Linked DNA regions of Homo sapiens. The protein of the gene in region 6 purifies or fractionates together with the protein of the main gene of each other region. This does not show direct contact. Each region holds a gene or a part of one and is shown on either strand. Other genes may lie near its edges. The genes, in order: NASP, PLCG2, SIPA1L1, ACO2, ALDH9A1, ACOT7 and FNBP1.

Evidence for each region.
Region 1: the proteins of ACOT7 (region 6) and NASP purify together in Homo sapiens (affinity purification with mass spectrometry, with the first as the bait; one study listed by BioGRID). This does not show direct contact.
Region 2: the proteins of ACOT7 (region 6) and PLCG2 purify together in Homo sapiens (affinity purification with mass spectrometry, with the first as the bait; one study listed by BioGRID). This does not show direct contact.
Region 3: the proteins of ACOT7 (region 6) and SIPA1L1 purify together in Homo sapiens (affinity purification with mass spectrometry, with the first as the bait; one study listed by BioGRID). This does not show direct contact.
Region 4: the proteins of ACOT7 (region 6) and ACO2 purify together in Homo sapiens (affinity purification with mass spectrometry, with the first as the bait; one study listed by BioGRID). This does not show direct contact.
Region 5: the proteins of ACOT7 (region 6) and ALDH9A1 fractionate together in Homo sapiens (co-fractionation; one large-scale study listed by BioGRID). This does not show direct contact.
Region 7: the proteins of ACOT7 (region 6) and FNBP1 purify together in Homo sapiens (affinity purification with mass spectrometry, with the first as the bait; one study listed by BioGRID). This does not show direct contact.

The regions. Positions count from the first base shown.
Region 1 is NC_000001.11:45,604,275-45,608,673, forward strand, and holds part of NASP (nuclear autoantigenic sperm protein), read left to right. Parts: intron 1-661; coding exon 662-742; intron 743-2,207; coding exon 2,208-2,317; intron 2,318-3,046; coding exon 3,047-4,063; intron 4,064-4,399. UniProt on the Homo sapiens protein: Component of the histone chaperone network. Binds and stabilizes histone H3-H4 not bound to chromatin to maintain a soluble reservoir and modulate degradation by chaperone-mediated autophagy.
Region 2 is NC_000016.10:81,785,791-81,790,189, forward strand, and holds part of PLCG2 (1-phosphatidylinositol 4,5-bisphosphate phosphodiesterase gamma-2), read left to right. Parts: intron 1-152; 5' UTR 153-199; coding exon 200-392; intron 393-4,399. UniProt on the Homo sapiens protein: The production of the second messenger molecules diacylglycerol (DAG) and inositol 1,4,5-trisphosphate (IP3) is mediated by activated phosphatidylinositol-specific phospholipase C enzymes. It is a crucial enzyme in transmembrane signaling.
Region 3 is NC_000014.9:71,669,708-71,674,106, reverse strand, and holds part of SIPA1L1 (signal-induced proliferation-associated 1-like protein 1), read right to left. Parts: intron 2,989-4,399; coding exon 2,415-2,988; intron 1,760-2,414; coding exon 1,485-1,759; intron 1-1,484.
Region 4 is NC_000022.11:41,506,684-41,511,082, forward strand, and holds part of ACO2 (aconitate hydratase, mitochondrial precursor), read left to right. Parts: intron 1-1,107; coding exon 1,108-1,366; intron 1,367-4,399. UniProt on the Homo sapiens protein: Catalyzes the isomerization of citrate to isocitrate via cis-aconitate.
Region 5 is NC_000001.11:165,691,814-165,696,212, forward strand, and holds part of ALDH9A1 (4-trimethylaminobutyraldehyde dehydrogenase isoform 1 precursor), read right to left. Parts: intron 3,585-4,399; coding exon 3,439-3,584; intron 1-3,438. UniProt on the Homo sapiens protein: Converts gamma-trimethylaminobutyraldehyde into gamma-butyrobetaine with high efficiency (in vitro). Can catalyze the irreversible oxidation of a broad range of aldehydes to the corresponding acids in an NAD-dependent reaction, but with low efficiency.
Region 6 is NC_000001.11:6,267,718-6,272,116, forward strand, and holds part of ACOT7 (cytosolic acyl coenzyme A thioester hydrolase), read right to left. Parts: intron 1-4,399. UniProt on the Homo sapiens protein: Catalyzes the hydrolysis of acyl-CoAs into free fatty acids and coenzyme A (CoASH), regulating their respective intracellular levels.
Region 7 is NC_000009.12:129,892,597-129,896,995, reverse strand, and holds part of FNBP1 (formin-binding protein 1), read left to right. Parts: intron 1-999; coding exon 1,000-1,158; coding exon of another isoform or gene 1,159-1,178; exon of another isoform or gene 1,179-1,735; intron 1,736-4,399. UniProt on the Homo sapiens protein: May act as a link between RND2 signaling and regulation of the actin cytoskeleton. Required to coordinate membrane tubulation with reorganization of the actin cytoskeleton during the late stage of clathrin-mediated endocytosis.

The DNA.
Region 1 (4,399 bases), about 39 Mb from region 6:
ATACTTACGTAATTTTTGTCCTTCTTCCTTCTGTCTAGATATTAATAGCTAAGACTTAATACACAGTGCTATTTGTTGTCTAAACATTGTTTTCAGTGCTTTTACATACATTAACTCATTTAGTTCTTGCAATAGCTCTTTGAACAAACAGTTATTAACATTCCCATTTTACAGATGAGAAAACTAAGGCACTGTGAGAATAATTTGTCTAAGGTCTCACAGCTAGTTATGGGTTAAAGGTAGGATTTGAATCCAGTTAGAAGAACTCCAGATATTCTGCGCTTTACATCATGCCTTTCCATGGGCCTTAATCATCCTCTAGGTCCCAGCCAAAGGTCCTTTAACTATTCTGATCCATACTGACATCCATCTTTTAGCAGGAGGAATACCTATTAATACCTTAGGGCTGTTTGGCCCTACATTATGTATTACTAATTGTAGCACATTTATGTCACTTAGGATGTATATATATTATATATTGATAAAGAGCATACAAAATTTTCATGCATTGTTTAATGTCACTTTGACCTTGAAAGCAAGAGGGGTATTGGTTTTCTAGGAGTATGTTACTGGAGAAATATCAATTTATAACTGAAGAACTAGAACTAAATGTTTTAGATTAGATGGTAATTCAGATTTTAGATGTTTATTCTCTTTGTAGAGGTAAGAAGTATGGAGAGACAGCTAATGAGTGTGGAGAAGCCTTCTTTTTCTATGGGAAATCACTTCTGGAGTTGGCAAGGTATGGATGTTGTATTTAAAAACTGAAGTTTCCTTGTTAAGATTGTTTACTAGCTTTGAGATTTCACAGGAGCTAAGCAAGATTGGTTTTACCTAGAGAGTTTTGAAGGAGCTTGAAGTAGTGATGGAAGTTGTGAATGGCACTTGATACAATTAGTAGTTATATTTAAGTTTTGACTTTTGGAGTCAGTAGAAGCAAAGTTCTTTCCAGTAGTGAATGATCCAAAGTTCAGTGTAGAGAATCTTTAAAAGCACTGTGAGCTAGCTCAAAACAAGGACTGAATAGAGGACAACTGGAAAGAATTAGCAAGTGAGACTGTCCAGTAAAAAAGACTTTTACTATTGAAAAGTTCTTGGCTATGTTCTATCAGAATTTATTAATCAGAATAAGTTCTGTTTAGGGTATACAAACTAGCAAATGATGTCATCTATTTAATCTCAGTTCTGGTAAGGTTTTTTTTTTTTGAGATGGAGTCTCAGTCTGTCACCCAGGCTGGAATGCAGTGGCGCGATCTCGGCTCACTGCATCCTTCATCTTCCGGGTTCAAGTGATTCTTCTGCCCCAGCCTCCTGAGTAGCTGGGACTACAGGCATGTGTCACCACACCCGGCTAATTTTTTATTTTTAGTAGAGACAGGGTTTCACCATGTTGGCCAGGCTGGTCTCGAACTCCTGACCTCAGGTGATCCACCCACCTCGGCCTCCCAAAGTGCTGGGATTACAGGCGTGAGTCACTGCGCCTGGCCCAGTTCTGATAAGTTTTTTTTTTTTTTTTTTTAAGACGGAGTTTCACTCCTGTCACCCAGGCTGGAGTGCAATGGTGCGATCTCTGCTCGCCGCAACCTCTGCCTCCCCGGTTTGAGCGATTCTCCTGCCTTAGCTTCCTGAGTAGCTGGGATTACAAGTATGCGCCACCATGTCCAGCTAATTTTGTATTTTTAGTAGAGATGGGGTTTCTCCATGTTGGTCAGGCTGGTGTTGAACTCCTGACCTCAGGTGATCTGCCTGCCTCCACCTCCCAAAGTGATGGGATTATAGGCGTGAGCCACCGTGCCTGGTCTCTGGTAAGTTTTTAATCTCGTAATCATACAGAACTTTCTCATGATTTGCCGTGAAAATCTTGCTAGAGTATTTTTGGCTATTTAGAGAAATCGGGTGGATACAAAGTTTGGGAAATAGTATGGTCCTATTACAAATGGAATGCATATAGGTCTTGTTCTTTTGACAAGAGACATGCTTTTCAGGCGGCTGGATGGAGGAATATGCTTATTTCCTTCAGTGCTCTTGCAGTCTTAATTTATATTACTAAAGTTTTGATCATTGCTTCCTTGAATATACATAGTTTTGTATTGCCTGCGCTTGGCTTACACTTCTTGCTTTTATAATATAGGACTGTATTTTCTGTCTTAGAAAAAATTGCTAGGTTCTAGCCATCAAACCTTTGGTGCTTTCTTTTGTTCTCCTAGAATGGAGAATGGTGTGTTGGGAAACGCCTTGGAAGGTGTGCATGTGGAAGAGGAAGAAGGAGAAAAAACAGAAGATGAATCTCTGGTAGAAAATAATGATAACATAGATGGTATGTGGAGTTGCATGTGACATTCAAGAGATGCGACGTTGTATATTTCTTGTATACAGTGGTGGAAACGGGGCTCTACCTGTCCTGGATGGTCTCTCCTAAGATGCTTGGGGTGATGATGCCTGCATCTGGTGGAGATTGCAGTGGGGATAGCTGTTTACTGAAGCTGACAGCAGATTTTTGAAAGAGAATAACTTATTTTCTCAAGTAAATCCAGTTATTTCGATTGGGGTTTTTTAAATCAAAAAGATAAAAGCAAGATTAAATTGGTGTTTTAAATACTATTACAACCTTAAGTGTTTTTCTGATGCAAATTTTTTTAAACAGCCTGTGCAGTTCAGTTATTTTAATAGCAGTACTTTTAGAGCCCTTGTACATTTTTTATGTGTGCGAAAATTATATAATTTCTAAGCTGAATTTGGCTGCTATAGTTTTACATATCAGATGGGGGAGAATGAAAAGCTTGGCATCTCTTACCTAACTGGTAATCAGAATGCTCAAGTAAAACAATACCTAGTGTAACAAGCTTGGGTTTCTTTTGCAGTAAGTTGCTCTGCTAGCCGGGATGCTCCCTTTCCTTTTCTCTAGGGGGCAGATAATTTTTAGGCCATCTGCTGAAACTTGGTAGGCTTTTTGAGGGTTTAAAGGGAATGTATTTTTAGTTTCCATTTATGCCTTTATCATTAAACTCGAAGACATGTTTATGCTTCATGTTCTTTAACCATGTAGAGGAAGCAAGGGAAGAGTTGAGAGAACAGGTTTATGACGCCATGGGAGAAAAAGAAGAAGCCAAAAAAACAGAAGACAAGTCTTTGGCAAAGCCTGAAACTGATAAAGAACAGGACAGTGAAATGGAGAAGGGTGGAAGAGAAGATATGGATATAAGTAAATCTGCAGAGGAGCCACAGGAAAAAGTTGACTTGACTCTAGATTGGTTAACTGAAACCTCTGAAGAGGCAAAAGGAGGAGCAGCACCAGAAGGACCGAATGAAGCTGAGGTCACTTCTGGGAAGCCAGAACAGGAAGTACCAGATGCTGAGGAAGAAAAATCAGTTTCTGGAACTGATGTCCAAGAAGAGTGCAGAGAAAAAGGAGGTCAGGAGAAGCAGGGAGAGGTAATTGTGAGCATAGAGGAGAAGCCAAAAGAAGTTTCAGAAGAGCAGCCTGTGGTGACTCTAGAAAAGCAGGGCACTGCAGTGGAGGTAGAAGCAGAGTCTTTAGACCCGACAGTCAAGCCAGTGGATGTGGGTGGGGACGAGCCAGAGGAGAAGGTAGTTACCTCTGAAAACGAGGCAGGAAAGGCGGTTCTTGAACAACTGGTAGGTCAAGAAGTACCACCTGCTGAAGAGTCACCAGAGGTGACAACAGAGGCTGCAGAGGCCTCAGCTGTAGAGGCTGGATCAGAAGTCTCTGAAAAGCCTGGGCAGGAGGCTCCAGTTCTCCCTAAGGATGGTGCAGTCAATGGACCGTCAGTTGTAGGAGATCAGACTCCTATTGAACCACAGACTTCTATAGAAAGACTGACAGAAACAAAAGATGGCTCAGGACTAGAGGAGAAGGTCAGGGCAAAGCTGGTTCCTAGTCAGGAGGAGACTAAGCTGTCTGTAGAAGAGTCTGAGGCAGCTGGAGATGGGGTTGATACCAAGGTAGCCCAGGGAGCTACTGAGAAATCACCTGAAGACAAAGTTCAGATAGCTGCTAATGAAGAGACACAAGAGAGAGAAGAACAGATGAAAGAGGGTGAAGGTAACCGGGATATGCAAGAGCTGCAGTGGGTGGAGTACATTCTGGATTTGACTCACTAATTATGGGTAAAAGTCAGCCTTCCATTCAGGATTTTCCGTCTGCCTTTGGATTAGGAAAGGGCTAAATGAAAAGGGGGGTAGTTTAACAAGGTCGTGATAGTCAAGTAAGTTCAATCAAAAGCAGCAAGTCTTCTTTAGCTGGCTTATAAACTAACACTTTTACTAACTGCAAAATAGGCCTTCTGTGTGATTTCTGAGACTTGGCTAGCTATCAGTAACTTGTTGCAGCATACTAGCCAATAAAGTGGGATGGAAAAGGTAGATGAGGGGTGGGGTA
Region 2 (4,399 bases), on a different chromosome or scaffold from region 6:
TGAGTGGCCAGCGATGCCTTGCCACTAGAACCTTCTCCTAAAACTCATCCTGATTGACATGAGACAGGATTTTGGTTCCTGAAGTTCATGCCCTGTTAACTAAACCCCTTTCAGTACTAAAATCAGTTCACTCTTTAATTCTGCCCTTTCAGCTTCCTGATTTCTCCCGATTCCTTCCTTCTCCCTGGAGCGGCCGACAATGTCCACCACGGTCAATGTAGATTCCCTTGCGGAATATGAGAAGAGCCAGATCAAGAGAGCCCTGGAGCTGGGGACGGTGATGACTGTGTTCAGCTTCCGCAAGTCCACCCCCGAGCGGAGAACCGTCCAGGTGATCATGGAGACGCGGCAGGTGGCCTGGAGCAAGACCGCTGACAAGATCGAGGGCTTCTGTGAGTACTCGCTGGGTGGGGCAGTGTGGCCCGTCCTCTGGGGCCCTGGCCTGAGCACCTGTCCACCTTCCTGTCTTGTCATTACTGTGATTGTTGTTGGTTTGATGTGTTCTTTTATTCGTCTTAAAATGAAAGCATTGCCAGTTTGTGTGGATCTCTGATGAGGTTTACACCAGGTGGAGGAAGTTCAGCTGGGAAAACTCTGGTGAAAGAACTGAAGCTGAGGTCAGCCAACATGGAAATGGCATTCAGGCAGCTCTCCTTGCCTGGTGGTTCTGTGCCCTGTCTGACAGCATCAGGGATCGTCTGGTTCCCACAACTGGTCGAGTCATCTTTCCTCTTAAGGGCGAATTAGCCCAAGCCTGCAGAAACTCATAGCTTGGTCGCCAAATGCTACCTTGTTTTACTGCATACCATAGCAGTGAGGGGCCTTTGCTTTAGTCTCCAAGCAGGGAGAGTGAGTTGTTGAACGTTTTGTAGCTTTCAAATGCAGGTCTGGTCTTGGTAGAGGTGTCCCTCCTCCCCTACCTCCGTTTGATTGGGCAGCTGGTTCAGATCCTAAAGTTTCTAAGACTGTTTTTAACAAATAGAGTAAAGGCACTTAAGCAATTTTCAGTTGCAAATATTTGCTCTAATTTGTGTTTTTAAATTAACTAGTTTTTAATTGAAATATATATTCCTGGGGGTTAAGGAGTCAACTCAAATATTTCTCCTCCCTAAACCATCCTACTGAGGCAAGCTCATTACCAGTTACTTTTATCTTCCAAAATAGTCTATGCTTGCATAATGTGTGGGTTTAAAAAGAAAACAATTGGGAACTCTTGTACACTTCTGCACCTTGACTTCTTTTTGTTAATTAATAATGATGTTGGCGGTGGTTTCTTATCAGCACACATTGATCTCATTCTTTCTTGGACACATGACATGTAATGGCACAGGCCTCAATGTAACAGTTTAACTCCAGAGAAGGGCATTTCATGCTATTTCCAGGCTTTTGTTATTATTCGAAGTGACTATCATTGTACTCTTTTTTTTTTAAAACAAAATTAATTTTTTTGAGACAAGGTCTCTTTCTTTTACCCAGGCTGGAGTGCAATGGCATGATCATGGCTCACTGCAGCCTCAGCCCCCTGGGCTCAAGTGATCTTCCTGCCTCAGTCTCCCAAGTAGCTGGGACCATGGGAATGCACCGCCATGCCTGGATAATTTAATTTTTTTTTTTTTTTTTTGTAGAGATGGGATCTCACTATGTCCAGGCTTGTCTCCAATTCCTGTGCTCAAGTGATCCTCCCTCCTTGGCCTCCCAAAGCATTGGGATTACAGGCATGAGCCACCTCACCCAGCCTTGCACTCTTTTTTTTTTTTTTTATAATAGATTGATTGAGACATAATTCACATAGTATACATAGAATTCACCCATTGTATGCAGCATGTATAGTGTGGTGGTTTTAGTATATTTATATAAATGTGCAAGCACCACTCCAATCAAAAGTAGAACCTTTATATCACCTCAAGATGAAACCCCATACCTTTCACCATCACCCCATCCCCTCATCCCCCCTACCAGACGTAAGCAACCGTTAAATTTAATTCTGTTTCTATAAACCTCTCTATTCTGGACATTTCATAGAAATGGATCCTATGTATGTGGGCTTTTGTGACTGGCTTCTTTGACTCAGCATTTTTCAAGGTTCATCCACTTTGTTGCGTGGATCAGAAATTTTCCTTTTTGTGGCAGAATCACGATACGTTGTATGGGTATTCCACAGTTTATTCAGTCATCTGTTGACGGACCCTTGGGTTGTTGCCACCTTTTGGCTAATATAAATAGTGCTGCTAAGAATGTTTCTCTACAAGTTTTTGTGTGGATGTCTGTTTTTATTTGTTTTGGGTATATACCTAGGAGTGGAATTGCTGGGTCATACACTAACTCAGTTTCATCATTTTAGGAACTGTCAGACTGTTTTCTAAAGTGGCTGCACCATTTATATTCCTTCCAGTGGTAGAAAAGGGTGATCGTTGCATTATTCTTCATTTGTATATATGGGTATATCTGAAGGACAGCTTCCTGAAGGTTTATTTCTGAGCTGAAGGATATGGCATATATATATTTTAATAGACAGAGTCTCGCTCTGTTGCCCAGGCTGGAGTGCAGTAGTACAATGTCAGCTCACTGCAAGCTCCGCCTCCCGGATTCATGCCATTCTCCTGCCTCAGCCTCCCGAGTAGCTGGGACTACAGGCGCCCGCCACCACGCCCGGCTAATTTTTTGTATTTTTAGTAGAGACGGGGTCTCACTGTGTTAGGCAGGATGGGGGTATGGCATATTTTAACTTTAAAGGGAAGTTTGGCAGCACCCCACAAAAGAGGTTGCCCCCACTGTCTGTTTCAGCCACAGGATGTAAAAGTACCTGTTGCCTGAACCCTCATCTATGCTGCGTGGCTGCTGAACTTGGCCATCCACAGGTAGACTTTGGTAGCTTGGTGTCATCCTTAATTTGATGTATCCTATCATGAGTGTGATCAAACTGCTTTCTGAAAGGCTTTTCCTGGTTTTGGAGCCCAGTGGGTCTCTTGTGGCACAGAGCCAGAGCCCTGCTTTGGAACTGCCCATGTGGAGGTGGCCATCTTCCCTCTTGACTGTTTGCATTGGCCGGCTCCACCCCCAGGTGGCCCAGAAACCTGTTGCAGCTGGGGTGGCCACCCTCCCTTCCCCCACAAGGGGTGAGAGGGTTGGCACTGATGGTAAATACAGATGGGCCACGTTGAGACTGGACTGCAGGTTGTTCCTTTCTCTTCTCAACCTGCCCATCCCAAACCTAGCTGCCCATCAGAAACACCCAGGGGGGATCTTGTAAGTATAGGGTATTAACCATGGCATGTGTATACACCTGTGTAACAAACCTGCATGCTCTTCACATGTATCCCGGAACTTAAAGTAAAATAAAATAAAATAAATATATACAAAAAAGAAATTACAGGGTATTAGAACCTTCTTCTGAAGCTCATTGTGATGGGCATGAGACAGGATTTTGGCTTGAAATCTATGCCCTGTCATTCTCCCCTTCTGCTGAGTAATACCATTTCACTCGCTTACGCGGATGCGCTCTCTCGCTCTCTGTTTTAGAGACAGGGTCTTGCTCTGTTGCCCAGGCTAGAGAGCAATGGCCTGATCATGGTTCACTATAGTTGTGAACTCCTGGGCTCAAGTGATCCTCCTGCCCAGTCTCCCAAGTAGCTGAGACTACAGGTGAGTGCCACCATGCCTGGCTGATTTTTTAACTTTTGTGTAGATAGGGTCTTGCTATGTTGCCGAGGCTGGTCTCCAACTCCTGGCCTCAAGTGATCCTCCCACCTTGGTCTCCGAAAGTGCTGGGATTACAGACAGGAACTACCATGCCCGGCCTCAATTCATTCTTTTATTTATCTGTTCAGCCTCTTTATTTCCTTCTTCTTTCTCCCTGGAGAGACCAAGAATGATGATATTTCACCACTTTGGCTGGGGCGTATTATTATAATAAGTCCCCCGGATGGTCTGGTAACTAGGCAGGTTTCACACATATGCCACTGGAGAGACACTGCCCTTCCTCCACCTTCCCCCTCCTCTCCCTCCTCTTCTCCCTCCCACTTTCCCTTTCTTTCTCCTTCCCTTCCCACCTTTGCCCCCCCTCCATTGCCTCCCCTCTGTCATTTGGATGCCCACTGTAGGCGCCGCCCTAGGCGCTAGAGATACAGCAGTTATTAAATTGGATTCAAATCTCCGTGGAGCCTATATTGCTTTATTAGGTATGAGCAGTCTGGGGCTTGACTTCCAGTGCCCTTGGATGAGCTTTGCTGTGTGATCTTGGGCAAGTTACCTCCACTCTCTGAACTTTAATTCCCTTATCTGTGGACTGGAAATAACATTGGTGTCTACCCCACAGGCTCATGGTTGGGAAGAAGCAAATGAGAAGATGCATTGGAGAGGCTCGGCTGAATTCATAGTGTGTGACAGGCACTCAGTTGTT
Region 3 (4,399 bases), on a different chromosome or scaffold from region 6:
TACAAAGCTTGGCTATCTTCTCCCATTTATAATTGTCTGTTCAGAAGCAATAAAGTAGACAATTTGAAGGAGAGACAGCAGAGAAAGAGACAAGACAAGGAATGCAGCAAGACTGGAGACTGTCATAAGCAAGAACCCCACTGCCTTTCTGAGCCACCTCACATTATTTTTTAAATCACAGTTCAGCACATTACTTAACATTTAATGATGATATGCTTGGGGAAACCAGAAAAGGCTAATAAGGTTCATTAGACCTGGTTAACTAAGGCAGGGTATGTGGGTAGGGCAGTTTCTGAATATTTACTCCTCTCCAAAACAGGTGAAATTAAAAGTTCATATTTTGATTTCCAGGGAAATGCAGTCATCCAAAAGGAAGTTCTTCAAACTATCAGACAAAGGAATTTTTCTATATTTTGACATATATACATAATCCCTAGGCCATCTAGGAGGTAAGCAGTATTAGGAAATACTATCCTGAGCAAAGTATATAAAACACACACACGCACACACACACACATATATATTTGCTGCTCTTTACTTTTTAAAAGACACAAATAGCCTATCATAACCATTAACTTTCTACCATCTGATATTCACAAATCCATGAGAGCTCAGGTGTAGGACTGGTCATCTTAGTGGCAAAATAGGACACAGAACACTGTCTTGGCTTTAGAAAGCCTAAGAATCAATTGCCAAAGCTTAAGAGAAATTCTTAGAAAATAATGGCATAAACTAAAAAGAGAGATCTTAAAAACTAGCAAAAATAGCATGTGCATGTCCAAAGGAGAAAATAAACAGTTGATTAAATTTCTTCCACCAATAAACCTCCCCAGAGACAGAGAAATTAAATTTTCAACAGTGCTGCTGGCTTGGCAGGAGCTGTGGGGGGTTGGGTGGGGCAGGGAGCTCTTAGGTTTTCCCTTCTGGAAAAGACTAGGAACCAAAATGCCAAAGCACCATGAGCAGGGGCAGCTCACCTGAAGCCAAACCCTAGCACATGCAGATACAGTTAGGAAAGCAGCTGCCAGACTGAGACAGCAAAGGTCCAAACAATTGCTGAGTTTTGGGCAGCAATTAGGAGAGAGAAGAGAATAAGAGCATCATGGAACATAGAAGAAAAGCAATCTGACAATTTGAGATGTTGAGTGTCTTTTAATGTTCAATGTGTTCAATGTTTCTCAGCTCCCAGTGGAAAATTCTTAAGATAGATATTACCAGACTTCTCTATCTGTCATGGCAACTTTATAAATCCAGTGATGTAAATCCTGGGAATGGTCCCATTTAGTCACTCTTTCCAGCTGCTGTCACCACACACTGAAAGGGAGCTTCGTCCTGAGTCAGACTCCATGGATGAAACATTCAGCATCACATGTAACCTATTGTTCTTCACAACACCCTACTCCACTACCTGCTAAGAGATGTTCTACATGGTACACAAACCCTGCACTCGAGTCTCAGGCCCACAGCTGTCTCCTCAGACCTACCTCCGCGGGGTGCAGTCATCATGCGGGGGAATGATGACAACCTTCACCGTGACAGATGTTCTCAGGAGGTCGATCATCTGCTCATGGCTCAGAGTGGCTACCGCCACCTTGCAGATCTCCACCAGGCGACTGCCCTGCCTCAGCCCTGCCTGCCAGGCATAACCGTAGGGCTCCACATCCGCCACAATGCCCTCATAGTTGACATGGAAGCCAAGCTGTCCTAGCCCATTTCTTCGCAGAGTCATCTCCACCGATTCACAGCCTTTTGAAACAAACTAGACAAGGAAATAAAAGATACTGTGGTTTAAAGCAATAGGGTATTAAGTGGTGGACATGGAACTGGAAAATCATTGCAAGCAGGGTTAGTTCTGAATACCTTATTGCCAGCTGAAGAGCAGTCTGGTTATTTCCTCTTCACTAATCTCCTATTCATTAGGCCAAAAGGAATATACTTGTTGCATCCAAAAAGCTCAACGGCTTCCCTGAAGTTACAAGGAAACCTCTACCAGAGACCTACAGGGAGCTGGCAGTAAATAGAAACCATATACTGCTACTCATTTAGCCTTTGTAAAATTCAAGGCAGCAGATACTCAAGCAATTCTTTTCAACACCACCACCAGATGACTGGACTGCAGCACCAGGGAACAGGTCACATGCAAATGGGTTTTGAACATGAACGCACACACACACACACACACACACACACACACACACACACACAGAGTAAATGTGTCTTCCCCAATTTGTTCTACTTTTCCGAAACATCCATGGAAAACACAAGCATGAGATAAACTCTGTTTGCTTCACACATCAAGGGAGTTTTCAGAGGAGCTAATAACAGAGCACAAGGTTCAGTAACTTGGCTCTAGTCTGTATTGAAAACTTTATGAAAGAGAAACTGCATGTAAGGAAGAGGAAGGAGAGACTCACCTGCAACCTTTTGACAATCTCTTTGATCTCCTCAATGTTAATAAAACTACCCACTGAAACACATTCTCCTCGTTCATAGAAGATTTTGAGGCTGGTGTCAGTTGAAGTCCACCCTATCACATCTCTACAGGAACAATTGAAGACCACGCTCTTTGTTTCCTGTTCAATGAGCACAATGAACTCATTGGAGATCCCTAAAAGGCAGTCTAGTTCCATGGCCTTGTTGTAGTCTTCAGCCCGGACTGCCCATACAATGGCCCCCATGCTGCTGAGCTCGGCTCCTGGATATGGCTTAGACTTTTCCTTCTTCTTGGAAGCCAGAGAGATGAACGGAAACTTGCCAGAAGGGTCGATAGGGGTGTTGGTGACATTCTTTTCTGCCAGATCTTTCAGGTATTCCTGGCGGGTCCGAGTTGCCATGGCCCGAAACTTCTCCGATTTATGAGCAGCATTTTCTGCATTAATCACTTTCGCCAAAAGGAAGTCCCTGAACACATTTGACTTAGGGAAAGTGACCCCTTTAGGAATGGGAGGCCCAAAGGAAGGCACATCTCTGGACCTGGTAACAGCCACACTGAGAGACAAAGATCAAAGAGAGCCACGTCAGTATTTCTCAGTCTCACAACATCAGAATAAAATATACTTTCTCAAAGACAAAGATGTACCTCAGATACAAAATAGCTGCTTATTTTTCCATGAGAAACAACACACATTTCTGCTTAATACGAGTATATTTTTTCATTCTACCGCATTTAGGATTTACACAACATAATTTTTTTTCTAGGCCAAAAACAAACCTCCCAAAATCCCAAAAGCTAACACTATTAACTTTTTTTTTACCAGACAGGAAACTGACCAAAACTCCATGAAAAAAAATAGGTTTACTGTAATATTCTGTGTAAGACATTTTAAATACCTACTAACTGTTTTCAAGGGAGGTTACTGTAACCACATCATCTTTCAGAACAAGCATACATTCTGTGAGAACACAAATGTGTTCTCCATTTTAGATATGATGGCTATAAGCAGACAGCTTACATTGAAAATATCAGAAGATGCATGCCATAAAAGAAATGAATTAAATTTCAATAAAACTTAACTAGTATTTGTTGGCCTAAGTGTGAGGCATTATGCAACCAGATTAAAAGCATAATTTTAAAATGAAAATTGGAATCTGAGTAATAGTATGAGAATCTTTATGTAATAGCAACAACGCTTTAAAATCATATTTTTAAACTGAGCTATTCCTTGGTCCTTTTGGTATTTTATTCTGATAATCTATTTCTAAGAAAAATATTTTCCTTCTCCCATTCCTTTAAGCAAGATTGATATAAGAAAGCCTGTTCCAGTCATTTCTTCTGACTATATATTCCTAAAATTGGGCCTAAGAAAAGGATCATATGAACATTTGTAATAACTTATTATTTTTAACCTCAAAAGGAAAAAAAGTAAGTTTCTCCTAAAACAACAAAGGAAGTTGTTGATATAGAAATAGAGAGGTTGAGTGTTTTATATCATTTCCCAAGATTTTAGTAAAGTTTGACATGACTGGAAATGATTCTAACACATCGAAGATCGCTCTTTCCAAATTAAAAGTGAACAAATTATGCAATTATACTTAGTATTAGGGAAACAATAAAAAAATCGGTTTCTTCTGAACTCTTGGAATAGAAATGGCATCATCAGAGAGTATGCATCTTTCAAATAAAATTGAAGAGCTCTGTTTCACTTTTTTTTCTTTAGGAAGGGTTTGCTTTAAGATATTCAGCTTTGTTTTTCAAGAAATAGTTATTTCTTGTGAAAATAAGAAAAATAAAAATCAGCAACCTCAGGAGGCAAATTATATTTCTGGTGGAATGGAAAAGCTACATGCTCAGAAGATGCCATGGGATGGCCTATCTGTTGGTTTTACAAGTGTATTTTTAAAAGACTACCTAGTTCACTTCATGACAAAGAACAGTGGCAACCAACACTCCATTTTCTAA
Region 4 (4,399 bases), on a different chromosome or scaffold from region 6:
CCAGGTCAGGGTTAAACTCAGAGCTTCTGACTCCCAGTCTGAAACTTTTTTCTTGGCCTCAAACAATAGGACAGAGCCTGTCAGGTGTGGGTTGAACTCTGCTCCTCCTTAGGAAGGAAGTCTCAAGCTTGGCCTAAGCTTTGAGAATTCTGGGGGGCAGAGCGTGAGGTCTGAAAGGGGCTGTTGTGGCAGGCAGGGCGGCCACAACAGCCCCTTTGCTCTGTTGTGTGGGTGCAGCCGGGAGTCAGCCGGAACGTTGAGCCTGGCAGGGAGAGTGGACCCGCGCAGAGCTCAGTCTAGATGGCTGGGAGGCTTGTGGGGAGAAGACGGTTGAGTCCTGACAGGGCCGGACCCCAGGGCAGGTTTGGACTGCCATTTTGGCTCTGATGAGGAAGGGAGGGGTGGGGCCTCCGGGGAAATGGGGTCTAGGAGGAGGAGGAGCTGTGAGAGGCCAGTGGCAGTGACCCGGTCTCTGTTCTTGAAAACTGACAGATACTCCTGTCTATGTCTGGAGCTAATGGGCAAAGTCTTAGTGTCATAGTTGGGTAGCCAGGCATCCCAGGCCTGAGGTGTGGAGGGTTGTAGATGGCGGACAGGGTGGACAGGTGAAGGGGATGCTGGTCCTGATTCCCTGTGCCTTAGTGGGGCTGAGGGCACAGAGGGAAGTAGCGAAATCTAGCTGTGAACTTGGTCACTCTCCTGAGCCTGTTTCTTGGTTGTTGTTAAATGGCTTTCTTGGTTGTTGTTGTTGTTAAATGGCAGGAATGATGAGATATGCATGTTGCGGGGACTTAGTAGGAATTACGATGCTGGGAAAGCCAGGATCCTTTGAAAAGAACCAGCGCTGCCCTCTTGTGATGTTGTCATTCACTTACTCATCAAGTAATTGTGGAGCACCTAACAAGTGCCAGGTGCTGCAGGAGGTGAGGAGGTGGTGCAGTGAACAGGACCCAGCAGTCCCCACCCAAGTGGAACGTTGAGGTCCTGAGTTCAGACTCCCTGTCCCTGGCCACTGTTGAGGTTGCCACATGGACTGAGAGGGAGAGGCAGGGCGGGAGGAGGCCGTGCAGCTAGCACCAGGCCACCCTTCTGCTCTTCTCCCCACAGACTGAACCGGCCGCTGACACTCTCGGAGAAGATTGTGTATGGACACCTGGATGACCCCGCCAGCCAGGAAATTGAGCGAGGCAAGTCGTACCTGCGGCTGCGGCCGGACCGTGTGGCCATGCAGGATGCGACGGCCCAGATGGCCATGCTCCAGTTCATCAGCAGCGGGCTGTCCAAGGTGGCTGTGCCATCCACCATCCACTGTGACCATCTGATTGAAGCCCAGGTTGGGGGCGAGAAAGACCTGCGCCGGGCCAAGGTGAGCAGAAGGTGGCTTTGGGGGTGGGCAAGTGGGCAAGACTGGGCGAGAGGCCTCACCCTCACACTGGAGCAAACCAGGGCATTGCCTCCAAATTCTCACACCTCTTTGGATTGGTCTGCTTTTAAAACTTGATTTTACTTGTTTCTCTTTCTAAAAATAGCACTTGCTCATTATGTTAAAAAATACAGAGGAAGCCTAAAGAAAGAAAAAATCATCCTTGACCTTACCACACTGCAGGTCCTTTTTCTGTCCTGTTGGAGGATGATGTGGATCCTGCCAGGTGCTCTGGAAGGGGCCATGCAGGCCTCCCTGTCTGCCTGAGCAGTGAGGGGTGCATCTTAGCATAGTTTGCCAGCATCCCATTTGCACCCACTCCCGCTCTCCTCTGACCCTCCAAGGACCCTCTCCGGGAGGTAGGCGTGCTAGGGTCACTATTTGTAAATTTGAGGCGGCAGTGGCATCATACTTGAGTTCTGTAACTACATGAGGGCACGATTAGGGCTCAATGCTGATCCTGGCTCCCACTCTGGTGCTCTGTCACTGAGGAGCCTCCTTTGGGGGCCATTCTTCTGTGAGTTTTGCTTAACTACATGGGGGTGGCTGTATGCCATGCTGAAGGCTTTTCCCCCACCCTTCTATGAAATCGAGTTCCTGCTCCTTCTCCCAGGCTCGGCTTGTGGGACCTTTGTGTCAGCCTGCTCTTGGCAACAGCGGGCCTCTCTCTCCCAGCTCTGGGCCTCCCCACTCTCCAGCCCCTGCAGTGGGAGTGGGTCCCCCTCACGGGGAGGGGCGTTGGCAGGAGCTGAATGCTGGCAGGGCTGCGGCCTGTGGGCATGTGATTGAAAGTGCTCCAGCTCCCAGGGTCAGCATGGCTCAAAGCCTCCCAGCCCCATGGGAAACACTCGGGGCGGCGCTCTCACTCAGACCCTCTCTTCCACCCTGGCCCCCTGGTGGTATCCTGGCTCCACAGTGGCTCTTTCCCCTCAGCTGAAAGGACAGTCCTGCCTGCCGGCCGGCGGTTTCCACATTAGCAACAACACTGGTGGGGGTAATAATGTTACAGGAGCTCCCACAGTGCCGGGAACTGCACATGGCCGGGAACGTGGGTCCTCTGCAGCCCTGGGGACAGCTGCCCACAACAGGGCTGCTACCTTCTGGGGCTGGCTTTCTGCTTGCTTTATGGGCTCAGAGTGAATCTTCTGGAGATGAGATGCACACTCATAGCATTCAGAGCTCATTCCCTCATGCGTTCAACAAATTGAACATTCTTTATGTGCCAGGCACTGGGCTAGGTACTGAGGTTCAGTGTGAACAAGTCAGGCAGGGGCCCTGCCTTCAGGGATCTGCTTGTGGGTGTGGACACTAAACAATGGCCGAGGTAGGTAACTGCAGATCTGGGTATGTGTTAGGAAGGGAAAGTGCGGGACTTGGTCAGTATAAAAAAGAGGTCTAATTTAGATGCTGGGGGAAAGAGAGAGCTTCTTTGAGGATGTGACAGATAACCTGAGGACTGAACATATGAGTTGCATTGACTGGAGGAAGAACATGCTAGAAAGAACAGCATTTGCAAAGACCCTGAGCCAGGAAGAAACTTGATGCTTTTGTGGAAGTGAGAGGGGGCCTGTACTGCTGGAGTTCTCTGTGTTTGGAAGAGCGGGTGGTATGAGGTGGGCAGGGGCAGCCAGGAACGCGAGGGCTGTGGGAACGCTATGGTCACCATCCTCAGAGTCCTAGAACAGTTTAAGCGGAGAAAGAATATGGTCTTTTTTTTTTTTTTTTTTTTGAGACAGAGTCTTGCTCTATCCCCCAGGCTGGAGTGCAGTGACACACAATCTCGGCTCACTGCAATCTCGGCTCACTGCAACCTCCGCCTCCTGGGTTCAAGCGATTCTCATGCCTCAGCCTCCCGAGTAGCTGGGATTACAGGCACCCACCACCATACCTGGCTAATTTTTGTATTTTTACTAGAGACAGGGTTTCACCACGTTGGCCAGGCTGGTTTCAAACTCCTGACCTCAGGTGATCCACCCACCTCGGCCTCCCAAAGTGCTGGGATTATAGGTGTGAGCCACCACGCCCGGCCTAGAATGTGGTCATTATTACGTGTATTTGTAAAGTGTCCCTCTGGCTAGGGCTCAGAGGCAGTGACCTGTCTAGGGTCACAGAACCAGAGATGGATCCAGGCTGAGTCCAGGCCGAGACTCTGGCACCAGTCTGGGGTCCTCCCACACCCCTTCCTCACACTTAACACAGACGTGTAGTCACATGCGCCCAGACACGACCACAGCCTCCTGTCCTGGATACCAATTTCATAAGTGACCGATTTGTAAATGAAAAAGCTGATGTATTAATTATTAATTGGAAAGAGACTGCTCTGGAAACCCACGTTCTTTGCCATTCTCTTACCTGGGGGAACCCAGTGGGCCTTCAGAGGGCACACACTGGTCTGGAGTTTCAGTGAAGGGGTGTGTGGTTTGAGTGTATCTCATCAAGGGTCCGAGGGCACTGGCTGAGGTCCCTTCTCTGAAGCATCGCTCTCCCATGCCGGAGGCTGGCAGGTCCCATTTCCTAGTTCCTCCTTTGAGACTCAGTAGAGTCCACTAGAATCCCACCGTTTTGTTACTGGGGTCAGTCTCACTGACCCCACACAGGGACCTCCCATGTCTTCCAGATAAACCCTGGCCTCACATCTGCTGTGCAGTGGGCCCTTCCCTGTCCCTCAAGGAAGCTTCCTTCAGATTATAGGCAGGATGGCTACAGCCCGTGTCATCATTTCGTTTGGCTGAAACCTCCTTTTCAGAACAGTGGTCCCTTCGACAGCCTTCCATTTGGGCCCATCAAACACATTACCAAGAATTCAGCACTTCCGACAGTCAGACACCAGTCCAGGGGGCTCTCTCAGGTGTCGTCTAAGCCTGGGATCTCCAGCAAGTTATTTCAAAAAAAGCCTCTGGGGTTTTTGTTTTGTTTTGAGGCAGGGTCTTGCCCTGTCACTCAGGCTGGAGTGTAGTGGTGCGATCTCGGCTCATT
Region 5 (4,399 bases), about 160 Mb from region 6:
ATCCTCAATAAAATACTGGCAAACAGAATCCAGTAGCACATCAAAAAGCTTATCCACCATGATCAAGTTGGCTTCATCCCTGGGATGCAAGGCTGGTTCAACATACACAAATCAATAAACGTAATCCATCATATAAACAGAACCAAAGACAAAAACCACGACTATCTCAACAGACGCAGAAAAGGCCTTCGACAAATTTCAACAGCCCTTCATGCTAAAAACTCTCAATATACTAGGTATTGATGGGACATATCTCAAAATAATAAGAGCTATTTATGACAAACCCACAGCCAATATCATACTGAATGGGCAAAAACTGGAAGCATTCCCTTTGAAAACTGGCACAAGACATGAATGCCCTCTCTCACCACTCCTATTCAACATAGTGTTGGAAGTTCTGGCCAAGGCAATCAGGCAGGAGAAAAAAATAAAGTGTATTCAATTAGGAGGAAGTCAAATTGTCCCTGTTTGCAGATGACATGATTGTATATTTAGAAAACCCCATTGTCTCAGCCCAAAATCTCCTTAAGGTGATAAGCTACTTCAGCAAAGTCTCAAGATACAAAATCAATGTGCAAAAATCACAAGCATTCCTATACACCAATAACAGACAAACACAGAGCCAAATCATGAGTGAACTCCCATTCACAATTGCTTCAAAGAGAATAAAATACCCAGGAATCCAACTTACAAGGGATGTGAAGGACCTCTTCAAGGAGAACTACAAACCACTGCTCAATGAAATAAAAGAGGACACAAACAAATGAAAGAACATTCCATGCTCATGGATAGGAAGAATCAATATCGCAAAAATGGCCATACTGCCCAAGGTAATTTATAGATTTAATGCCATCCCCATCAAGCTACCAATGACTTTCTTCACAGAATTGGAAAAAACTATTTTAAAGTTCATATGGAACCAAAAAAGAGCCTGCATTGCCAAGACAATCCTAAGCCAAAAGAACACAGCTGGAGGCATCATGCTACCTGACTTCAAACTATACTACAAGGCTACAGTAACCAAAACAGCATGGTACTGGTACCAAAACAGAGATATAGAACAATGGAACAGAACGGAGCCCTCAGAAATAATACCACACATCTACAACCATCTGATCTTTGACAAACCTGAGAAAAACAAGAAATGAGGAAAGGATTCCCTATTTAATAAATGGTGCTGGGAAAACTGGCTAGCCATATGTAGAAAGCTGAAACTGGATCCCTTCCTTACACCTTATACAAAAATTAATTCAAGATGGATTAAAGACTTAAATGTTAGACCTAAAACCATAAAAACCCTAGAAGAAAACCTAGGCAATACCATTCAGGACACAGGCATGGGCAAGGACTTCATGACTAAAACACCAAAAGCAATGGCAACAAAAGCCAAAATAGACAAATGGGATCTAAGTAAACTAAAGAGCTTCTGCACAGCAAAAGAAACTACCATCAGAGTGAACAGGCAACCTACAGAATGGGAGAAAATTTTTGTAATCTACCCATCTGACAGAGGGTTAATATCCAGAATCTACAATGAACTTAAACAAATTTACAAGAAAAAACAAACAACCCCATCAACAAGTGGGCAAAGGATATGAACAGACACTTCTCAAAAAAAGACATTTATGCAGCCAAAAGACACATGAAAAAATGCTCATCATCACTGGCCATCAGAGAAATGCAAATCAAACCCACAATGAGATACCATCTCACACCAGTTAGAATGGCAATCATTAAAAAGTCAGGAAACAACAGGTGCTGGAGATGATGTGGAGAAATAGGAACACTTTTACACTGTTGGTGGGACTGTAAACTAGTTCAACCATTGTGGAAGACAGTGTGGCGATTCCTCAAATATCTAGAACTAGAAATACCATTTGACCCAGCCATCCCATTACTGGGTATATACTCAAAGGATTATAAATCATGCTACTATAAAGACACATGCACACGTATGTTTATTGCAGCACTATTCACAAGAGCAAAGACTTGGAACCAACCCAAATGCCCATCAATGATAGACTGGATTAAGAAAATGTGGCACATATATACCATGGAATACTATGCAGCCATTAAAAAGGATGAGTTCATGTCCTTTGCAGGGACATGGATGAAGCTGGAAACCATCATTCTGAGCAAACTATCACAAGGACAGAAAACCAAACACTGCATGTTCTCATTCATAGGTGGGAATTGAACAATGAGATCACTTGGACACAGGGTGGGGAACATCACACACCGGGGCCGTAGGGGGTGGGGGGCTGGGGGAGGGATAGCATTAGGAGAAATACCTAATGTAAATGGTGAGTTGATGGGTGCAGCAAACCAACATGGCACTTGTATACCTATGTATCAAACCTGCACATTGTGTACATGTACCCTAGAACTTAAGTATAAAAAAAAAAAAAAAAGGAGGCAGGATTATCACTTGTTCCTCGCAGCTCTGGACTCCCAGGAAGAGGCAGCCTGGTCAGATTCTGGGAAACAAAAGAAACCTTTTGTTTCCGTCAAGTTTCAAACAGAGGACCTTCCGTGTGTTAGGCCAGCGTGGTAACTACTACACCACAGAAACCCTTTGCATTGCAGGCTTTTTATGTTTTGCGATGAGTATTAAATACTTGTTTTTACAATTTTTTTTAGTTGACAAATAAAAATTGTATATATTTATGATGTAAAAAAAAAGTTTAACTCTCTTTTTTTTAAAGGGAACATCTACAAATCTATGAAATCTTCCCAATTAAAGTAACGATACTTAAAACCCTATCTGAAAACAAATCTGAAAAAGAAAGGTAGACTTGAGAATCATCAAAATAAAGAATAAAAAGGAAACAAGTAAACCACATGGTTTAAAAAGAAAGAAAGGCTGGGCACAGTGGCTCACGCCTGTAATCCCAGCATTTTGTGAGGCCGATGTGGGTGGATCACTTGAGGTCAGGAGTTCAAGACCAGCCTGGCCAACATGGTGAAATCCATCTCTACGAAAAATACAAAAATTAGCCAGGCATGGTGGCACACACCTGTAGTCCCAGCTACTTGGGAAGCTGAGGCAGGAGAATTGCTTGAGCCCGGGAGGCGAAGGTTGCAGTGAGCCGAGATCACTCCACTGCACTCCAGCCTGGGCGACAGAGCAAGATTCCGTCTCAAAAAAAAAAAAAAATAAAAATAAAAAAAGGACGATGAGCTATAAAGAGTGCATTATAATTCAAAACAAAGCTTTACAAACATGAAAACCTGCCAAAGGAGATGTCCAAGAGCCAACATCCAGATGGGAAGTATTGAACAAAAACTTGTTTTATATACTAAGGTGAGCATGTGGAAATGTTTTTCCATTTTATAAAAACGTTACGGCCTAATGTTGCAACAAAGTCGAACTGCAAACATCACAAAGAAACCTCAGAGCAATGTCTGAGTTCTGGAAGGAAATAAATTGGAACATACCCTTATTATCCTGGCAGCCTCCAAAAGGATTCGGCAACGCTCCATGCCAGATTTTTGACTCCATATTTTAAAAGCAGCCTTTGCATTTTGAACAGCCAAATTTACTTCCTTTTCTCCTGAACATGTGAAAGTAGCTATCACTCGGCCTATAAAGAGCGGAAACATCAGTTTTAACTCAAATTGTTGCCACATATTTAAATAAAATATTATCTATCAATATTCTCTTAGTAGTAGTCTTTTTTTTTTTTTTTTTTTTTTTCTTGAGATGGAGTCTTGCTCTGTCACCCAGGCTGGAGTGCAGTGGCGCGATCTCGGCTCACTGCAACCTCTGCCTCCTGAGTTCAAGCGATTCCCCTGCCTCAGCCTCCTGAGTAGCTGGGACTACCAGTGCACGCCACTACGCCCAGCTAATTTTTTGTATTTTTTAGTAGAGACCGGGTTTCACCATGTTGACCAGGATGGTCTTGATCTCCTGACCTTGTGACCCACCCGCCTCAGCCTCCCGAAGTGCCGGAATTACAGGCGTGGGCTACCGTAACTTCTTGTTTTTATGTATGGTTTGATTTAGTGACCATCTCTATACTAGCAGGTTTTTTTGTTTTGTTTTTTTGTTTTTTAAGACGGAGTCTCGCTCTTGTTACCCAGGCTGGAGTGCAATGGCACGATCTTGACTCACTGCAACTTTTGCCTCCTGGGTTCCAGCAATTCTCCTGCCTCAGCCTCCCGAGTAGCTGGGATTACAGGCGCCTGCCACCACACACAGCTAATTTTTGTATTTTTAGTAGAGACGGGATTTCATCATGTTGGCCAGGCTGGTCTTACATTCCTGACCTCAAGTGATTCACCCACCTCTGCCTCCCCAAGTGCTGGGATTACAGCCATGAGCCACCACACCCGGCCTAGCAGTTCTTAACTGTATTTTGCGGTCATTGACATTAGGAGTCTGATAAAAGTTGCAGAC
Region 6 (4,399 bases):
CTCTGGGATGGGCTGCTTCAGGCAGAGGCTTGCCCACCTTGGGACCCAACCATGCTGTGTGCCCTTCCTGGGATGGTCTCTTCATTCCGCCTGGAAACCAGCCCAGCATCTTCAACCCTGGAGCCGGGTGTGAATCCTGATTCACCACTGACTCACATCGACTCCTCTTTTGTAAAATGGGCCAATGTCCACCTCACAGCAGAGTTGCGGGGACCAAATTTCTCCCTGCAGCCCATGTTCAACCAGGCATTAAAAACAACACAGTGAAAGAAGCCGGTCACAGGGTCTGCCTATCACCCATTTACACGAGATGTCCAGGAGAGACATATACACAGAGGCAGAAAGTGGATTGGCGGTTGCCTGGGGCTGGGGGACCAGTGGTGGCTAAGGGGTGGTGCTTCTTTTTGGTGAGATAAAAGGTTTTGAAATAGACTGTGGCGGGGGATGTCCACCTCTGTGAATAGAAGAAAACCTGCTGAATCGTATCCTGGAAGTGGGTGAACAGAACGGCATGTAATTACATCTCAGTAAAGCTGTTAAAAGAGAAAACCTCCACAGTTGAGAGCTCTCTGTGGTGGGGGAGTAGTCAGGGCTGTCAACGCATAAGACTGGCCCTGAGCTAATAACTACACAGGAATTCTTTCTTCTCTTTACTTTTGCGTATATTTGACCTTTTCTATAATTAAAAAGCTAGAAAAGCAAAAAACTAACTAGACCTAGATCTAGGAAAACCAGCCCCTCCTTTCTTCCCTAGGCACCAATGATCTCCAGGCCCCAAAGAGACGGGGACTTGGCTTTACAAGCGGTGGGCTGCGGGCAGAGCTGAGGGAGCCGTCTGGGCTGTGCACAGGCGCGATTTTCCCCACTCCCCGCCAAGAGGCGCTAAGAGCTAACTCAGGACCATGCTCCTTCTGGTCCAGTTCATAGGTGTGTGATGGGCCCCAGGCCCCACGCACGCGGCACGGCCCGAACGGCAGGGAGATCTCCGCCCAAGAGCGAGAAAACCTCCAGGGCTTCATACAGCCCGGTCCTCACCTCTGCCAGCCACACGCAGCAGTGGAGCGGAGCCCTCGAGTCCCCTAACGATCTGGCCTCCATGACCACCTGGGAGTGGAATAGGAGTAACTTCCTACAGCTCTCGGCATCTTTACCAGAGATGTGACCACAGCCCTCCAGCCGCCGAGGGCGTGGGAGGACCACCCAACTCTGGGTCTGCAGAAGGCACTGCAGACGAGAGCCCTCCCACCCCTTTGCCCCCACATGGGCTGTGCACGTGGGGCAGGGACTACAGCGATAAGGGGATATTCCCTGCGCAACCCATGCTTAGGGCGCGGCAGGCTGTGCACATCAGGGTCTTCCCAACAACCCCACCAAGCAGCACAGAAATGATTGTCCACTTTTACCAATGAGGAAGTGAAGCACAGACAGGCTGAGTAACTTGCCCAAAGTGACACAGCGGGTAAGGGGAGAGCCTCCATTTAAACCTGGGCATGGGGGCTGCCCTCCAGGTCGTCCTATGCCGAGGGACTTTTAGGGGTGGGACTCGTCCATGGGAAGTGAGGAAGGCGATGGACCTGCAGCGTGTCCACGATGAACCAGGGTCAGGGGCTTCCCTGCCTCCCCTCACCTCACCCCGGCCCTCGGCACAGCCTAGGAGCACTTGCTGAGCTTGGCCTCCCCCAGGCGGGGGCCCTGCCCTGCCCTCAGCCATATTATCCCAAACCACTACAGCTGCTCCCACCCCAGCGGCCACCAGGCCATCGAGCATTCCCAATGCCACAGGCCGAGGGCTGTGACTGCTTCTCTCGAGGTCAGTTAATACACAGCCTGAGGCGGGCACGAGCCCAGGTGCAGGTCATTCTCAGGGTCGGCTCCAGGCTGAGGGAGAATCTGGTGCCCAGCAACGGGCCCCAAGGCGGCTCTGATGTGGCCCTGCTCTTTAATATTTGCAGCAAACTCATCAGCCAGGCTCTGCCCTCAGACAAAGCAAATGCTGTCTGATGATGGATGGATGTGTGGGAGCCTGAGAGCCTGTGAGGGCCCCACTGCTCTTCCCGTCTCCCGGGATGGTAGTATCTGCTGGATGTTCCAGGCTCTGAGACAGAGTCCAGACCAGCCCAGGAGCCTCAACGTCACTGCGTGGAGTGCCCGCCCATAAGCGCTGCCCTCCCAAGGTGCGGGCGGCCTTCCTCCCTGAGTGCCCAGGGGCGCCCTTCCAGGGTGAAGGTTTATGAAGATGGCAGTCAAGGGCAGGGATGTCCCAGGTGCCTGAGGACCCAGGCTCACCACCCAGGGGGAGGTGGAACAAAGGGCCGCGGGGCGGTGTCTGTCCCATGGTAGGTTACGGGCTCACTGCTGGTGGGCAGCCAGCCTCCCCAGGTCATGGCTTTGCTAAATAGTTCTCCTACCCAAGTGACAAAGGGGCCACCCTGTCCCGCTGGGTGAGAAGCTGACAGAGCAAGACAGATGTCTCCAGCACAAGGCCCCACCCACGGCCCGGCTGCTGCCTCCTCGCAGCCATCTCCCTCCACCCAGCAAAGTAAATAAATGCATACGCTGTTGGCTGTTGCTGTTTTTAATGGAGGGTTGGGGGTGGGTGGAGGACGAAAGAACGCTCTGCGGGAAGACAGATGTCTCTCTCAAGTCCCCGAGGCTGCTGGTGGGGGAAGGACTGGAGCCTCTGGGGCACTGGCCAGTGGTGCCAGCTGCCGGGCACCCACCTGTGGCCTCAGGCAGGCTCCTCCGAGCCTCTGGGGCTCCCCAAGAATATGCCAGAGAGAAAGGATGAGGTGGCAAAGGGCAGCTCAGGGCACATGACCCCCATGTATCCCGGGCACCTGCCTGATGGAAGGGATGGGGCAGCATGGCCAGGAGCAGGACTCTGAGTCCCACGGGCCCAGCTGTGTGGCCCAGGGCCAGGTTTGTTCACCTGGAAACAGGAACTCAACAAAGTGACATGGCAAAGTGCTTCCTATGGTGCCGGTGCACGTGAGCTCCTACGTGTGTGTGCACATGTGTCTGCGGTCCCTGGTGCATGTGTGTGTGTCTGTGTGGTGGTCCTGCTGTCCTCAGAAATACCTGAGGCCAAGTGCAGCCTGGGAACTGCTCCAAGGACTGTCCTGCTGGTGTGTGGCTGCCCCAAAGGAGGGCCAGATGGCCCGGGGTCACCTTAACGCAGCGGGCCCTTTAGGATGTCACACCCACACATGGGGACGCAGGGGTGGGGAGGGTCCCAAGGTAGCAGGTTGACAGTACGCTCCCTCCCTGGTGCTCAGGGAGCACCGCCTGGCACTCAGCACCAAGCCCCTGGCTCCCCTGCAGCCTAGTGGCTGCCTGGGCCTGGGGTCTGCATCTTTTTCCTCCCTCCACTTAGTGCTTCCTGCCACTGCTGTCTTCTGGGCTCTCTTCCACTGGAGGGGAAGCCTGTGGCTTTCAGAGCCAAGTGCTGCAAACCAAATGTTTTCCACTTTGCATTTTCTGTGCTTGGAGAACACACATTTGGAACATGGTATGGAGGACGAGTGACTAAGTTCCACCCTCGGTAAAATCAATAGCTTGTCCTTTTTGTAATTAATGAATGGCGTAAAAAGGGTTTCCAGTGGTGATATAACAACTTCCTGTAAGCCTGAGGGACACAGACCTTCTTAATTAGGAAGCCACGTAGCATGCCCTCTCCCTGTTATAACAGGAGACAAGAGGGGTCTTGGGATAATCACAAAAGCAATGAAAACATCTCATTATTGAGGACACTCAGCACGGCCGGGCGAGGGGCCTTGTGCATGGAGAAGCCAGCAATGATGAGCTTAGCACCAGGACCACCAGCCTCACAAGCACCTGTGCCCCCAGGGTCTTGCTCCACCTGAGGACCTTGCCTTAGCGGAGCCTGTCCGCCATCCGCTGTGGCCTCTCCGCCATCCGCTGTGGCCTCTCCCAGCAGCTGCAGGCCTGGGTTAATTACCTCCTCCTCCACACCCACCCAGGACTGCACCAGCCTCCAGCAGAAAGCAGCCGGAAGTCTCAAATAATGAGATCATTGTGGAGAGTCATAAACACCCTCACCAGGGGCTCCCCTCACCCAGCAGCACCGGCTCAGACTCCGAAAGAACTGCCCCCAAGTGGGGCCAAGAAAGGAGGCGTAAAGGCCAACGGGAGGCTGCTGGCGGAGGCAGGGAGATCGTCACCACAAAGGGGAGAAAAGGCATTGGGACTTGGGCCTGGGTGGTGGCCTCTCAGGAGCCCCTCCTGCAGGCACGGAGTGCCGTGGTCCCGGGACGCTCGGCTCACAGCTCTTGTGCCGGAGTGTGGACATGGCGGTCCCCACCCTACAACACCAATAATGATCATAGCTGTCACCTGCTGAGTGCCCACTGTGGGCTAGGCCTGGGCCAGAAGCCGCGTG
Region 7 (4,399 bases), on a different chromosome or scaffold from region 6:
CTTGGCTGCAGAAAGTACCAGAATGGAAGCAATATGTGAGGACAGTGTTTAAAGAGGAGCAGTTGGGCCGGGCGTGGTGGCTCACGCCTGTAATCCCAGCGCTTTGGGAGGCCGAGGCGGGTGGATCACCTGAGGTCAGGAGTTCAAGACCAGCCTGACCAACATGGTGAAACCTCGTCTCTACTAAAAATACAAAATTAGCCGGGCGTGGTGGCACATGCCTGTAATCTCAGCTACTCGGGAGGCCGAGGCAGGAGAATCACTTGAACCCGGGACAAGTGGCATCACACTCCAGCCTGGGCAACAGAGCAAGACTCTGTCTCAAAACAAACAAACAACAACAACAAAAAAATTGGGAGGCTGAGGCTGGTGGATCACCTAAGGTCAGGAGTCAGACCAGCCTGACCAACATGGTGAAACCCCATCTCTACTAAAAATAGAAAGGTTAGCCGGGTGTGGTGGTGCACACCTATAGTCTCAGCTGCTCGGGAGGCTGAGACAGGAGAATCGCTTGAACCGGGGAGGTGGAGGTTGCAGTGAGTTGAGATTGCACCACAGCACTCTGGCCTGGGCAACAAGAGCAAGACTCCATCCCCCACAACCCCCCCAAAAAATAACAGACAAAAGAGAAGCAGTTGGAGCCACGAGGGTACCTTTCTCCTGAGAGAGATCCAAGTGAGACAGAAGAAGACTAGAGAAGAGAACCAAAGATTTATCCAGTGAGAAATACTTACCATTCTGGGAGGGAGGAGAAAGAGGGCCCTGGAGGACTTAGAGAGGGTCCCTAGAGAGACAGAGGTAAGAACCTGGACATTTCTGTGCAGAAGGAGATGGTTTTGAGGCAGTGGGTGAGGGGTCCGTGCATCTGAGAAGGTCCGAGTGGGGTGAATTTTGTGTGGACTTCATCTTCGACGACACTTGTTTCATTGCGAAGGCCACTGTTTGCTTCCTCCCTGCATTTGCCAAGACATCTAACATATCCTGATATTGCTTTTTCAGGTCAGAATGAAGGAACGATTTCCGTAGTTGAAGGAGAAACATTGTATGTCATAGAGGAAGACAAAGGCGATGGCTGGACCCGCATTCGGAGAAATGAAGATGAAGAGGGTTATGTCCCCACTTCATATGTCGAAGTCTGTTTGGACAAAAATGCCAAAGGTGCTAAGACTTATATTTAATACCATAAAAAAAAAAAACTTAAAAAAAATGGAGTTGTTTCTCCCCACAACCATGACTGTTACAGGCAGTTCCTCAAGAGACTGGCTGGCAAGCACCATAATGCACGTTCTCCTGTAGTCTCACGTGGACTTCAGGGTCTGGGCACCTGAATTGCCTTGTCTAGTTTGGGCTGTAATCAAGTTTCACTTGCTGATGAAATTTTATGTGGAAAGCTGCCAACCGCCAACTTACAGCTATGTCATTCAAAATCTGATAAACATTTCTTCTTTTGGCGGTATCTGTAGATTAAAAAAAAAGTTGCATTGTAGCTTCTCATCTTTCTGAATTTAAAAGCCGGCACGCATCATGCAGGTGCCAAAGACTTCCCTACTCTTGTTTATATCTAGTATCCACCATACACTGAGCTACATTAGGTGGTTACAGATTGTAACTTAATAAACTGAACTGTGTTAGTTTGTTAAATTGTATACTCATTCACTTGGGAGGAAGTCACAAGTGAAATAACATCTCCTTCTTGACTAAAGCAGTAAATAAGATTCTTATATTGGCACCAAAAGTGTGTGTTTTTACTTAAACCTGGTCAGCATCCTTGGTAGGGCATCACGAGTACCCTGTTCCATCTACATGATCCCAGACAACCAGCTGAAATCTGGAAAAGTTTGGTGAATTGACCACTTGATTTTTACATTGCATTGCTGATTTTCCAAGTGTCATCAAATTGACAGGTTTTTGTTGTTGTGTTTGTGTTTTTGTTGTTGTTGTTGTTTTGAGACAGAGTCTGGCTCTGTTGCCCAGGCTGGAGTACAGTGGCTCACTGCAACCTCCGCCTCCCCCAGGTTCAAGCGATTCTCCTGCCTCAGCCTCCCGAGTAGCTGGGATTACAGGTGTGCACCACCACGCCTGGCTAATTTTTGTATTTTTAGTAGAGACGGGTTCGCTCTGTTGGCCAGGCTGGTCTCAAACTCCTGACCTCAAGTGATCTGCCTGCTTCTGCCTCCCAAAGTGCTGGGATTATAGGCGTGAGCCACCGCACCTGGCCCAAATTGACAGTTGATCAGATGTGCTAGTGCTGTTTAGATGGAGTTACTTAAAAGGCAGAGCGTGTCCCTGCATCAGCTCCTTTTGGCTGTGATTTCCTCTCACACTTGGTTCGGTTTCTGTTGGTTTTCCAAGTAGAGCTGCACTCACGCTTGCCCAGGTGGGGCTATAAAGAGAACGTGGTGTGGCAGCAAATGCTTCTCCCCACAGACACAGATCTCAGCACATTGCTGTTCAAAGACTTTGGGGGTTTGCTTTTGTTTTTTTGTTGTTGTTGTTTTTGTTTTGTTTTGTTTCTGCTTTTAATCATTGGCAAGGTTTGGATTTACTGGAAATTATTTTAGAATTTCTGGCTCATTTTATACAATTAACTGTAGCCAGAATGAAGTAAAATGTCTCACCACATCGAAAGGAATCTAGGCCACATGAGAATTTGCATTTTTAAATTGGCATTGATGTGGGAGGGGAGATAGTGAAGTTGGTCACATGCGTAGATGGTTGCCAGGCATTTCACTGTGCCCATTTCCAGAATCCACCCCGAGATCATAGACAACCCACTACAAATGGGTCAGAATGAAGGTGTTGGGTCAGATTCTCTTTTTATTTGATTTTGAAAATTATTTCCTTGTGTCCTTCCTACTTTCAAGTAGGAAATTAGCCCCTGCCTGCCTCTACATTGTGGGTTCATTTGATCAGCTCAAGTCCATTTAAAGCTGATTTTCCAAGCAGTAGCTGCACATTCGGGCTCTAGAACCTAGTAGGGGTTCTGGATGCTAGGGGCCGTGTTTCAAGATTCTCACAGCCAGTTAACCTTTATTTAGTGACAGCCTGATTTTTTAAAAAACTTTTTTTTTTTTTTTTTTTGAGATGGAGTCTCGCTCTGTCGCCAGGATGGAGTGCGGTGGCACAATCTTGGCTCACTGCAACCTCTGCCTCCTGAGTTCAAGCGATTCTCCTGCTTCAGCCTCCCAAGTAGCTGGGACTACAGGCGTGTGCCACCATGCCCAGCTAATTTTTTGTATTTTTAGTAGAGACAGGGTTTCACCGTGTTAGCCAGAATGGTCTTGATCTCCTGACCTCATGATCTGTCCACCTCAGCCTCCCAAAGTGTTGGGATTACAGGCATGAGCCCGTGCCTGGCTTTTTTTTTTTTTTTTTTTTTTTTTGAGACAGAGTCTCACTCTGTCACCTAGACTCAAGGGCAATGATACAATCCTGGCTCACTACAACCTCTGCCTCCCGAGTTCAAGTAATTCTTGTGCCTCAGCCTCCCCAGTAGCTGGGATTACAGGTGCCTGCCACCACACCCGGCTAATCTTTGTATTTTTTTTTTTTTTTAGTAAAGACAGGTTTTCACCATGTTGGCCAGGCTTGTCTCAAACTCTTGGGCTCAAGTGATCCGCCCGCCTCAGCCTCCCAAAGTGCTGGGATTACAGGGTGAGCCACCGTGCCAGGCCCAAATTTCTTTTGGATACTTTTGCTGGCATAGTATCAATAAAGCCACCCATCCCGACCCCAGGCCTCTTTGTAGATATTGCAGCAAGAAAATCAGCTGACCCTTCAACCACAAGGATCTGTTTAAATGAGCAGTAGGAAGTTTCCAGCTTTACCCAGTAAACAAGTGAATGGGAAACCTAAGGTATTAAAATCTGACCTTTCTATCCGATGACAAACTCATTTCCAGTCTGTGAACTCCTGGACAAAGCAAACTAACCACTGAAAAACTCGAAAATAGGGCAAGACGACATTAACCTTGTGAAAGTCTGCTTTGAAAAAAGGCATTCTGTCAAGCTGTGTATTTTTTTCTTGATTATTCAAATTTATTTCGTTATTCAAATTTAATTCAGAAAATAGCTCAGTTGGTTTCAGGGGGAATGGGGTGGGAGGGGTTTGGGCACATAAATTTATGATGATAATTTTAAATGTACGATCATTAAGTTGTATGCCTCAGTACTATAACAGGTGAATCTCTGTAATATTGACTAAACAGTTAAAAGATATTTTGTAAATTTCAGGTCCATCGCATCAATGCATGAAATATTAGAAAACCAAATTCCAAAGAATCAGGAATTTCCATTTCCACCCAAAGTATACTTTATTATCTTCTAGCAGTTGTCTGTTAATATAAAAGCAGCAAAATCTCAGCTACTTATATAATTTTCTCCTTTTATTTGAAAGTTAC